2 separate regions of the Homo sapiens genome follow, and region 2 is linked to region 1. The links come from fine-mapping of genetic effects on gene expression. A gene starts in region 1. The other region holds a variant in brackets. All regions are shown on one strand. Distances are from middle to middle.

Region 1 (5,368 bases):
ACCACTGTGTGCCATTGGGTGGCCCACAGTCTTAGCTTCCTTGCCTGCCTAGGGGTGAGCAGGGGCTGGGATGGGATGCAGAGGCCCACCTGGCTCCAAGAGGAACACCTGTGACTCCAAACACTGGGACAGATGCTCAGCCCTGCAGCCGCGGGAGTGGAATAGGGGAAGGGGGCTGGTGCCAACACTGCTCCCGCCGGTGTCTCAGAGGCAGAAGACATAGAGCTGAGATCTTGGGTTTTCATATTAAAAATGTAAGCTCCTCGAGGCAGGGGTATTTCTAAGTTTTGTTCCCCACTGTCTCCCAGTACCTGCACGAGCAGACAACCAACAGGTCCGTGGTCCGTGGTGTGCCAGCCACGGGAAGCATGGTCACCATGCCCAGGCAAAAACACAGAGGGAGCCAAGGGGGCCGCAGGAGACCCAGGGGTCTGCCATTGGGAGCTGCCGCTGGGCACTGGGGATGAGGGTGGGGTGATGAGGGCAGCAGTGCTCTGGGCAGCTGCCCCACCTTCCTGGAATCTCCTCCTCCCTGGGACCCTAAGCAGTAGGCCAGTGCAGGTGGTGGAGCCCTGGGGCTGAGGCTGTGGCTGTGGAGGGGCTGCCGCAGACCTCCCCCTACTAGAATGTCTCTGAGCTCCCTGGGGTAGCAAGAGCCCCAGGCCTGAGCCAGTAGCCCTTCAGTGGCCCCTTGCCCAACTTACGGCAGCACCTCTGGCTCTGGAGAAGGAGGGGACAGTGCTGGGCCTCTTGCTCTGGAGAAGGAGGGGACAGTGCTGGGCCTGCCCTCCTGGGAGAAGGGGCTGAAATCCCTCCTGAGTTCTGGAGCCCTCATCCCCAGGCCAGAAGCCCTCACAGGGCACAGACCACATCCCTTCCAACTCAGGCATGGCTGCAGAGACACTGCAGGCCCTCGTGAGGCCATTTCCAGAGGCCAAGGGCAGGGGATGCCCCTCCAGCAGGACTAGCCTGGCAGGAAAAGGCCTTTCCCAGCTGAGTGCCCTCCCTGTGTGCCACCTGCAGGCCCACAAGCATAGTCTCAGCCAAAGCTTCAGCTCAGGGCTTGGGAGAGAGAAAAGCCAGTGTGAGAGGCTGGATAGGTTGGTCTGATTAACTCTTGCTCGCCCAAGGTCACTCACAAAGCTGTGATGGCTGGAGACAGGCCATGGGAGAGGTACAAGAGCGCTTGACAGAAACAGAGAGAGATGCTGAGATGCTGGGTGAGGTCATGGCCAAGAGCAGGACAGGCCAGGTGGAGAGCCCAGCCTGCGCAGAGGCTGGGAAGGGAGGTTCGGAGCCGTCCTCCTAACACCTGCTGTCTCTTCCCAGGCTCTGCAGGAGAGGGAGGGAGGTCAGAAGGAACAAAGCCCAGAAGGTGACTAGTACCTTGGTTTGTTTCTCATCCCTCAAACCTGGGTAGAGTAGGTGACAGGAGAGAGGTGTCCCACGGAGACATGGGGACGCAGACACTCCATGCAGTCACTCAAAGATGTATGCTCCTTTGCAGACACTCCCCGGGACCCAGGCACTCAGGTGTCCTCTAACATCCCACGCTGAGCCCTGAGGGGCCAGTAGCCACCAAGTTCTGCCCTGTCTTAGTACTGGGTAAACATCTGTCTACTGAATGACTCGGTGGACAGAGGCTGTGGCAGCCACAGACACTGAGTCCACACCCCAGACTGCCAGGAGATTGTCTGCTCAACACCACCAGACAGCTCACAGAAGGGGTTGTGGGGGTGCTGGAAAGAGACACCCCAGCCCTATCCCATGGGCTTGGGGAGGCATCCAGGTCTGACCTGCTGTGTCTGGACACACAAGGGGCAAGGGGCAGTGTGAGGGTCAGGGGGAGTGGGCAGAGGCCTCCCCAGGCCCTGATATCCTCAAGTCTTGGGCCACTCCCACCCCCACTGCCCAACATCCCCGCCCACCCTGGACCTAGTTACTTACTCCCTGGGACTGTGTCTGCCAGGTTCCAAGGGTGGGGCCCAGGATTCTCAGAGCCCACACTGGGGGTGGGGAGGCGGACTGAGTCGTCCCACCCAGCACGCATACCACATACAAGGAAAGGCAAACAGCCCTGAGGTCAGGAGACCCGGGCGCTGGCTGGGCCCCTCCAGTCCCAAGTAGATTGTATAGCCAGCACGTTGCCACCACACCTGTCTCCCCACTCTCTGGCCCGCTTCAGATTGTGTGAAATGGGTTGATGGGAGGCTTCACATGAGCTGAGGAGAGACTCAGAGCAAAGACTCAGCACCGGTGGAGCCCAGGGCACTCAGCTCTGCGGAGTCATGACTAACTGCCTCAGTTTCCCCAGCCAGACCACGAGTGGGTGCACAGGAGTCCCAAGCCCTACCCAGTGTGGATTTCAGGGTGGAGCAGGGAGTGGCACCCACTGCACAGTAGGACAACCAAGGGACCGGACCGAGTGGCCCAAGCTTCCCCTCCTATGCGCATGCGCCCAGCAGCGCTCATGTCCAGGGGCCGTGGGGTGCGCAGGGGAAGGGGGTGAAGGTAAGGGAGATGGCCTTCCCGGATTGGCCAATTGTCCTCTACCCCCCACAACTGACCCCGGTCTCCAGGCACCGGCTGTGGGACTCAAAACAGTCACCGCTCTGGGAGTGGGGAGGTAACTCCGGAGGAGGAGCAAGAGCCTTTGCTCGCGGGGGCGTCTAGAGCCTTTCTGTGCCTCACCAGCGCCCCTGCCCGCCACCCCTAGCCCCAGCCAGGAAGGAGACAACAGGTGTCCCCCGCGCTGTCGAGGGGTCAGGCCGCGGTGGAAAGCGCGAGGAGCCAGGTTTGGTTGGGGGTGCGCGGCTCGGCCGGCGGGCACTCACCCGGGCGCAGGGAGCGGGGCGCGGCGCATAGGAGCAGGAGCGCGGCGCCCAGACAGGCGGCCGCCAGCACGCGCCGCCGGCAGCAGCGCCTCCCCATGCTGTGCCGGGCGCGCGGCGGAGGACAGTCCGCTGGATACGGCTGGGGGCGGAGTTGCACTGGCCCAGGACCCGGCCCCGGCAGCGCAGCGCCTACCAAGACGCGCGGCGCGGCGCAGGGCAGGGGAGCACGGCAGCTGGACCCCAGCCCCACCAGCCCCTGCGAGTCGCTGGGGACTGAGGAGGCGGGACACGGTGGGGCCGCAAGCCCGCTCCTCTTTTCGTGCCCCCACCCTCACCCAATGGAATGGGGCCGAAGTCCAGGGCGCTAGGGCGGAGACTGATTGGGGAAGCCCCTCGCCTCTGGGCCCCGCCCCTAGGGTTTGCCCAGGGGTGCCATTATCCACCCAAGGCCAAGAGGCATTGTCGCGGTGGCGTGCCCCACCCCGGGCGGTGTCCCCTTGCCTTTTTGCTGCCTTAGATGCCAGGGGCCCAAGGGCTGATCTGGGATGAACCAAGGAGCCTAGTAGAGCGTTGCCCTGTCCATGGCTCTCCGGGACCCCCGCCCTCAGTAAGAGGCCTAAGAGTGTCCCTCCCTCCCCGACCCAAGGCTACCCTGCAGCCTTGCTTTCCTCCAGGGTCTCCAGGTCCTGCCTGAATCTAGCTCATGCAGGTGGCACTAGCCTTTGCACAGAGAGGTAGGGTCTCAGCTTACATCCCCCGGGGAATGGAGCTTGTGCCTCATCGTGTCACCCACAACTTCTCTGGGCACCACGTGAGCTCTGAGGACTTGCCAGGGACTGTGTGTGTGTGTGTGTGTGTGTGTGTGTGTGTGTGTGTTGGGGGGTGGAGGGGGCGAGGTGAGAGTAAAGTCCAGCCTTTGAAAGACACACACATCCAGCTAGCCCTGTGGGCAGGAGCCCACGTCTAACCGCAGGGTCTTGCTGCCCAGAAGTCAGGCTAGCAGGGAACGGGAGGGTGCAGCTGGCACTGGGTGCGCGGATGAGTGCGTTGGAAACAACATTTAGCAGTGTGAGTGCATGGGATAGGGTACTACATTACACTGTAGGTTTTTTTTGGAGTTTTTTGTATAAATGTAAGGGACACAAGTGCAGGTTTGTTACATGGAGATATGCAGTGGTGAGGTCTGGGCTTTCCGTGTAACCATCACCTAAATAATGTCCATTGTACCCATTAAGTAATTCCTCATCCCTCCCACCTCGCTCACTCTCCTACCCTTCCAAGTCTCCAGTGTCTATTATTCCACACTCGAAGCTCCAGTTGTTAAACTGTTCTTGAAAAATGTGGTGACTCCAAACCCACCTGGTGCCGCTTACTGCTGTGGGAGATTAGGAAATTAACTGCACCTCTCTGTTTCCCATTTTCCTGTACGGGGGGATAATCCTAAACCTCAGTGCTGTGAAGATTAAATGAGATACAGGAAATGTTTGCAACAGTGTCTGGCACTCAGTGAGTGCCAGGTAAGTATTTGATATTAGTAATTAATTTGTTTATGGTTACTGCCTGTTTCTGGCAAGTGGCTGGTTTCTGTTAAAGTGGTGAAATAAAAATTTCTCCCTACTATATTTATTTAAGTTGTGGAAGATCTATTTAAGGAAGAATATTAAGCAAATAATAGTTCTGCTGGTTTTGAGATACAGCTTTAAATGGTGATGATGTTCTCAAAGGACAGGGGTGGGAGTCCAGACTCACAGTAAGCTAGAAGCTTCTTATCATGACTTTTCTGGCCTTGGGGAACCTCTAGCCCACCCCCAGACTGGCCCAGGACCCAGGGATTCCAGGTCATCTGCATTCCCTGCCGGACCTAACTCGCATCCAAAGGTGCCTTCCAAATTTCCCCAGACCGGCATTCCCTGGCCTCACTGCCAGCCTGGAATCCTCAGCGCGCTTTGCCCTTATATGCTGCCACCTGGTGGCCAAAGTTGGGAATAACATCTCAGCCCTTCATCCGGAGATGTCCCTGGAAATGGGGTCCCTGGAGAAAGGAAGAGATGGTCTTGGGTCTTGGGGTGGGAGGGTGCAGATGCCTGGCTAGACGCCCGGGGCCTAGGGAGCTTCCCTGCGAAGACGCCCTCTCCCAGGGACTCGCATTCATTCATTCATTCGACAGATACAGAACACCCACTCCGTGCTGAGGCCTGGGTGGAGAGGGTGAGACCCATGCAGTGTCTGCCCTCACAGCATTTCCATTACAGATTGGAAGCACGGAAAATCAGGATAGAGAGATAGAGCGGTGAATGCTGCTGTGAAGAAAACACAGCGGGTACCAGGATGAAAAGTGTGTCCGGTGCAAGGAGGGTGCCGGGGCAGGCCTGGGGGAGGTGGCATTGGAGCAGAGATGTGACTCCAGGGAGCAGAAGCCAGCAGGTACCATTGCAAAGGCCCTGAGGTGATGTTCCAGTTGCTGTTGCTAGGTAACAAACTGCCCTAAAATTTGGCCGCTTAAGACAACCATTTAAATTTTGCTCACAATTTTG
Region 2 (5,368 bases), 22 kb before region 1:
CAGCACTGGGCAGCGGGGTGCCTGCTGAAGATTTAAGGGTCCCCCCACTGTGTTCTACAAATACAGGGGCTAGAAAGTCACCTTGGAGTTCCTTGGGAGGGTGAATAAAATCAGGACACTTTGCAGCCTTCTCCCTGGAGTGGGATGTGGCTTTATTGTCTTCTCCCCAGGTGGGCAAGTGGCTTTATTGTCTCAGAAAGGAAGTGAAGTGAGGACCCTTGTGATGAAAAGATTGAAGGGGGTTGGCTTCCCAGGCCCTGGGGGCAGGACAGGGGTGGGTTCCCAACCTGCACGAAGCAGACCCTGGAGTCACATCTGTGGTGTTTGGGGAAGGGTGACCGGGCTGCACTGTGCCGCCCCAGCCAAGACTCCAGGCTCCCTCCCCAGGTGGGACCCCAGGTCCAGGCAGGGGACTCACAGCATTTGCCTGGGGATAGAGTACAGCTTCCAGCAGCACCCACAGACCTGCAGGAAGCAAAGATCCCTGGGGTCCCTTCCTGTGAGGGTGGGAGCCAGGCTGATCTTCATTTGGACTGTATAAGCTTCGAGGAGGTTGTCTCTGAGGTTTAAGCTATGCACTGTTTGATATAAGCAAAATACAGCAACGCATGTTTACCATGCAGCATAACCAGGGACACGAGACCCACTCTTATCCCTGCTGGGTGCTCCTTCCCCCACTTCACCACACCCTGAGTCCCTCGTACCCTGCCCATCAGGTCACCACATCTTTCTCCCCACTTAAAAAATGTTATAATTTGGCCAGACATGGTGGCTTACGACTGTAATCCCAACACTTTGGGAGGCTGAAGGCAGGTGGATCACTTGAGCCCAGGAGTTCGAGACCAGCCTGGGCAACATGGTGAAACCCCGTCTCTACTAAAAATACAAAAATTAGCTGGGCATGGTGGCATACGCCTGTGATGCCAGCTACTCAGGAGGCTGAGGCAGGAGAATGGCTTGAACCCAAGAGGTGGAGGTTGCAGTGAGCTGAGATCGCACCACTGCACTCCTTGAAATAACACATTGTTTGCTTTTTTCAATTATATAAGACTGTGTCAAACTCTGCAACTTTTTCCCCTCCACAGCAAGTTGCTAAGAGTCATGTGATGATGATGCTACTGCTGTAGTTCCTTCATTTTCCACTGTTTCTCATTCCATGATGTGTCCATTCTCTTTTGGGTAGATGTCTGGGTTGTTTCCACTTTGTGCTACTGTGGGTGCTGCTGCTCTAGGCATTCCTGTCCCTGTCCCCTGGGGTGTACTGTCTCCCCTCCCCAACCCATGATAGGATTTGCTGGTTGGTTGGTTGGAGGGCTCCTGAGCACCTCCTTTATCAGCTCTTGCCAGAACAATTTCCAGAGAGTTCCCAGCCTCTCCAGGTTCCCTCTGGTCCACACCTGCACTATAGGCAGGGCCCAGAGCTTTTGGGACTGGAGCAGGAGGGGTCGCTGGCTGCCTGCTCTTCCACTCATGATAGCAAAGCTGGTGGTGGTTTGTAGAAAAAGTTGGTAACTCATTACCTGAATCCAGAGTCAATTATAAAAACATACATGGTCTGTAATTCGTGCCTCCTCTCCTGGGCGTTTAAAGGAAGAATCTGAGGGCAGCTGGGATGTGTTTGCAGCCCCTGCCTTGTGCACTGAGTTTAGGTTTATGTGCATGTTATTCCTGCAAAGAAGAAAATGAGCCCCCAGGAAGCTGCACCGCATGGAAGCCCTTGCAGAGGAGCGGGTGACAGCTGAAATGTTTGACAGGAGAGAGATGGTGCAGCAATACTCTCTAAGCACAGCTACTCCATAAACTTTAGAAATGCTCACACAGTGGCCCAGATAGCAACATGGGCCCTGTGCCCTGCATCTCTGAGGCCATCTGGGTCCCCATGTGCCCTTAAGCTGTGAGCAGTTACAGTCAAACACAGATCCACAGGTAGAAAGGATGAGGCACGGTGGAGGTGCATTGGGGAGTGTGGACCCTCTCCCAGGAGTTTATCCTGCAGTCACACTCACACCTATGCAGGAGGAGGGTATGCAACAACATTCATGTCGGCACTGCCACAGAAAAGGATCCAAACTAACCTAGCATTTAAGACCAGTGGAACAAAAGCAGCATGTCATCATGGATTTATGGTTGATTCCCTCTTTGCCTCAGTCCCGCAGAACCAGCTCTGGAGGCAAGGATGGAGTGTGAGT[A/G]GTTTTTGTGAGAGGCAATCCCAGTTAGCCCATAGAGAAGTAGGGAGGAGACAGGGAAGGGACGGAACCAGACAAGGAATGTACCCTTGAGCTGGCAACCACGGCTTAGTCTGCTGGGACCACCGTAGCAAACACCACAGGCTGGGGGGAGTTAAACAATGTTCATTTTCTCCCAGTTCCAAGGAAGGCTGGACGTCCAAGGTGAAAGTGCTAGCTGCCTTGGTTCCCTGATGGGGGCTCTCTTCTCTCTTCTGGGCTTGTAGATGGCTGCTTTCTCCCTGTGTGAGAGGGAGAGGCGGGGAGGGAGAGAGAGAGAACTCTCCAGTGGCTCTGCTTATGAGGACACTAATCCCACCATGGAGACCGCATCCTCATGACCTCATCTCAACCTGATCACCTCCCAAAGGCCCCATCGCCAAATAGCATCACATTGTGGGTGAGGGCTTCCACATAAGACTGGGGAGAACATAATTCAGTCCACAGCAGCCACTGAGGGCATTTGGTGCCCAGTCCCCGTGGGGAAATCTGGGGCACCATGCAGATTGTGTCTCAATGTCCTTCATGCAGGGATAAAAGCTGGAGCATTTATCGCCCGACTTCCAACAGATGTAGGTGAGGACTGCTTCCAGGGGGCACTAACTCCTGCACACCCAGCCTTCTTGTGCCCAGGCCAAGAGGCCTGGTGGTCAGAGGGAGACTGCGGGAGGGTTGCAGATGCTAGGGAGCGCATTGAGGCACCCGACCTAAAACTGGCTGTCAGTTCCCAGACTCCCTTGCCACTGGGAATACAGTGGGCTAGGTTCAGGCCAATGGCATTGCACTGGAAATGGAATGGACTGTCCAGTTTGTGTCTTTAAAGCCAGCTTGGGTGCCCTTCTTTTCCCTTTGACATTGGGATACTTGAAAAGTGAATGGCTCACTCTCATGGAAAAGGGCCAGGCCCTAGGGACTAGGGAGCAACAAAAGAGAAGGGTCCTGGGCTCCAAGTGGCCCATTGGAGCATCTGTCCCACCAGCCCTCAGCCCCCTTCCTCTGGATAACAGAAAACACCTTAAACGACTGTCATCAAGCCTTTGTCCCAGGCAGCCGCACCTTTATCTTCATGCAGGAGCCACAGCATGATGGGGAAAGGTGGCATCCTGAGATCTGGGCCCACTGACCCCTTGGAGTGTGCTGGTGACACACATTTGGAGCTGCATGCAGCAGCCCTGGGCCTTGCCTTCACCCTGCTACTGTCTTACTCGTTGCTGAAGCCCACAGATGCATTCGGCTGTGCTTCCAAAACAATAATGCATTACATCTCGCTGTTTGTGAGAAACCAGGGATTTATTTTAAATTTTAAGCATTGGAAACATCCCTCTCAGGAAGCTGCCTGAATGACAAAGCCACAGAATAAAACTGAAAAGAAAAACAAGCCCTACCCCATAACTGCAGAAAGTTGGTTAACATTTTCCTGACAATGAAAGCCAGAAAAAAGCAAAAGAGCACTTACACTTATTTTAAAGAAGTCTGTAACCCAAACCAGCAATGGCACCCCATCCTGGGAGGTGTCCTGCCAGCACTATCCAACTTTAAGAGACTGAAAACCTGGGAAGTAAAAGACAATTTCAAGGAAGTTAAAATGCCGCGTGACCTTGGGTTTGTGCCATCAGCCCTTGTGGGCACTGGACTATGGTTTTAACAATCACTTGCCTGAAGGAGGTGCCAGATGGAGAATCACCTGGGCACCCCCCTGTGTTGTCCAGCTCTGCACATGTGACCCTGTCTTTCTTGTATCCTCTAGTGATCCAGCTGGGATCCCACAGGGTGGTCAGCCTGTGATCTGTGAGGACACAGACGTTCTGGCACCAGCCAGAGAGGAAACAGGCCACAGCAGGCCAGAGCAGGTGGAGTTCCCCAAGGACAGCCTCCAGAGCTGCCCCAGCGCCCTCAGTCCTCGAGGGCCTGGGCTGTGGCCCTGCACATACAGCAGAGGGTACAGAGCTGCATGTGGTGGGCACAGCGTCTGGGTGACACTGGGTGCCTGCAGCATGTACACATGGGGGCATCAGTGGGGAAGCAGTGGAGTAGCTGCCCACACAAGGGACTGTGAGTGTGATAACTGCCAGCATGTCCAGGTGCTGAGGGCATGACAGCAGGAGGCAGGGCACATCTAATTGTGAGACACCTGGGAGTGAGACATCCAGATGGGTGTCAGTTTCAGCAAACAGGTCCCATCGGGGGCTGTGTGGGAGCTGAGTGAGCTGGGAACAAAGGCATGTGTCATCAAAATGGGTGTGCAACAATTGCACACACAGTGGCCTAGAACACAGCATGTGTGGCCTCTAAGGGAGCATGTGAGGGCCAGGGAGCCCCTCACAAAGACAGTGGCCCCAGTGTGGCCAAGGCCCCATCCTTCCCTCCTCAGCCTGTCTCTAAACAGTGGGGCTCTGGCCCAGTACCTTAGTCCCTTTTCTGTTACTTGTAACAGAGCTCCTGAAACTGGGTAATTTATAAAGAAAAGAAATTTACTTTTTACAGTTATGGAGGCTGAAAAGTCCCAGCGTTAGGGACTGCATCTGGTGAGGGCCTTCTTGCTGACAGGGGCTCTGGACAGTCCGGAGGTGGTACAGAGCATCACGTGGTGAGGGGGCTGAGTACACTACCTCAGGTCTGATTTACTCTTCTTATAAAGCCACCGGTCCCACTCCCATGGTGACTCATTAATCCATCAACCCATCAATCCAGTAAACTACCAATGGATTAATTGATCCGTGAGGGAAGAGCTCTCATGACCCAGTCACGTCTTAATGGTTGGGTCATCTCTCAAGACTGCCACATTGTGGATTAAATTTCAACATGAGTTTTGGAGGGGACAAATATTCAAACCATAGCACCCAGGGAACGCTGGAAATGGTGCAAGGCCCTGGGCTTTGTATGTCCCTCCAGTGGGGGAAGGGCCCAGGCTGGGGGAGGCCTCATGGGGAAACCAGTGGCAGCTGCAGCCCCTTCCCAGGTCCACTGGAGTTGGCCACCCCATTCCTGCTGGCAGGGCCTCTGGACACAGCCCTGGGGGAGCTCAGAGACAAGTGGCCCAAGACACACCCACACTCACACATTCACACATACACATACACACAATTCCTCTCACACACTCATGCACACATGCACACTCTTACACTCATATACTCACTTATGCA

The links. PIP is the estimated chance that this variant, and not a neighbour inherited with it, causes the effect.
Region 2: its variant is the best candidate, but not a certain one, in a credible set for the expression of CHST13 in tibial nerve (GTEx, PIP 0.74).

The regions. Positions count from the first base shown.
Region 1 is chr3:126,521,896-126,527,263 of GRCh38, reverse strand. It overlaps CHST13 (carbohydrate sulfotransferase 13), which reads right to left and starts at 3,109. Exons shown (of 3, transcript NM_152889.3): 1 at 2,835-3,109. The coding sequence starts at 2,931. It also overlaps a transcript of C3orf22 not described here. RefSeq lists enhancers at 1,722-2,222, 2,223-2,723, 2,784-3,284, 3,285-3,785.
Region 2 is chr3:126,543,685-126,549,052 of GRCh38, reverse strand. It overlaps a transcript of C3orf22 not described here. Among named protein-coding and RNA genes, the nearest start is that of C3orf22, 13 kb to the left of the region's middle. The variant A/G (reference allele first, on the strand shown) is at 2,190.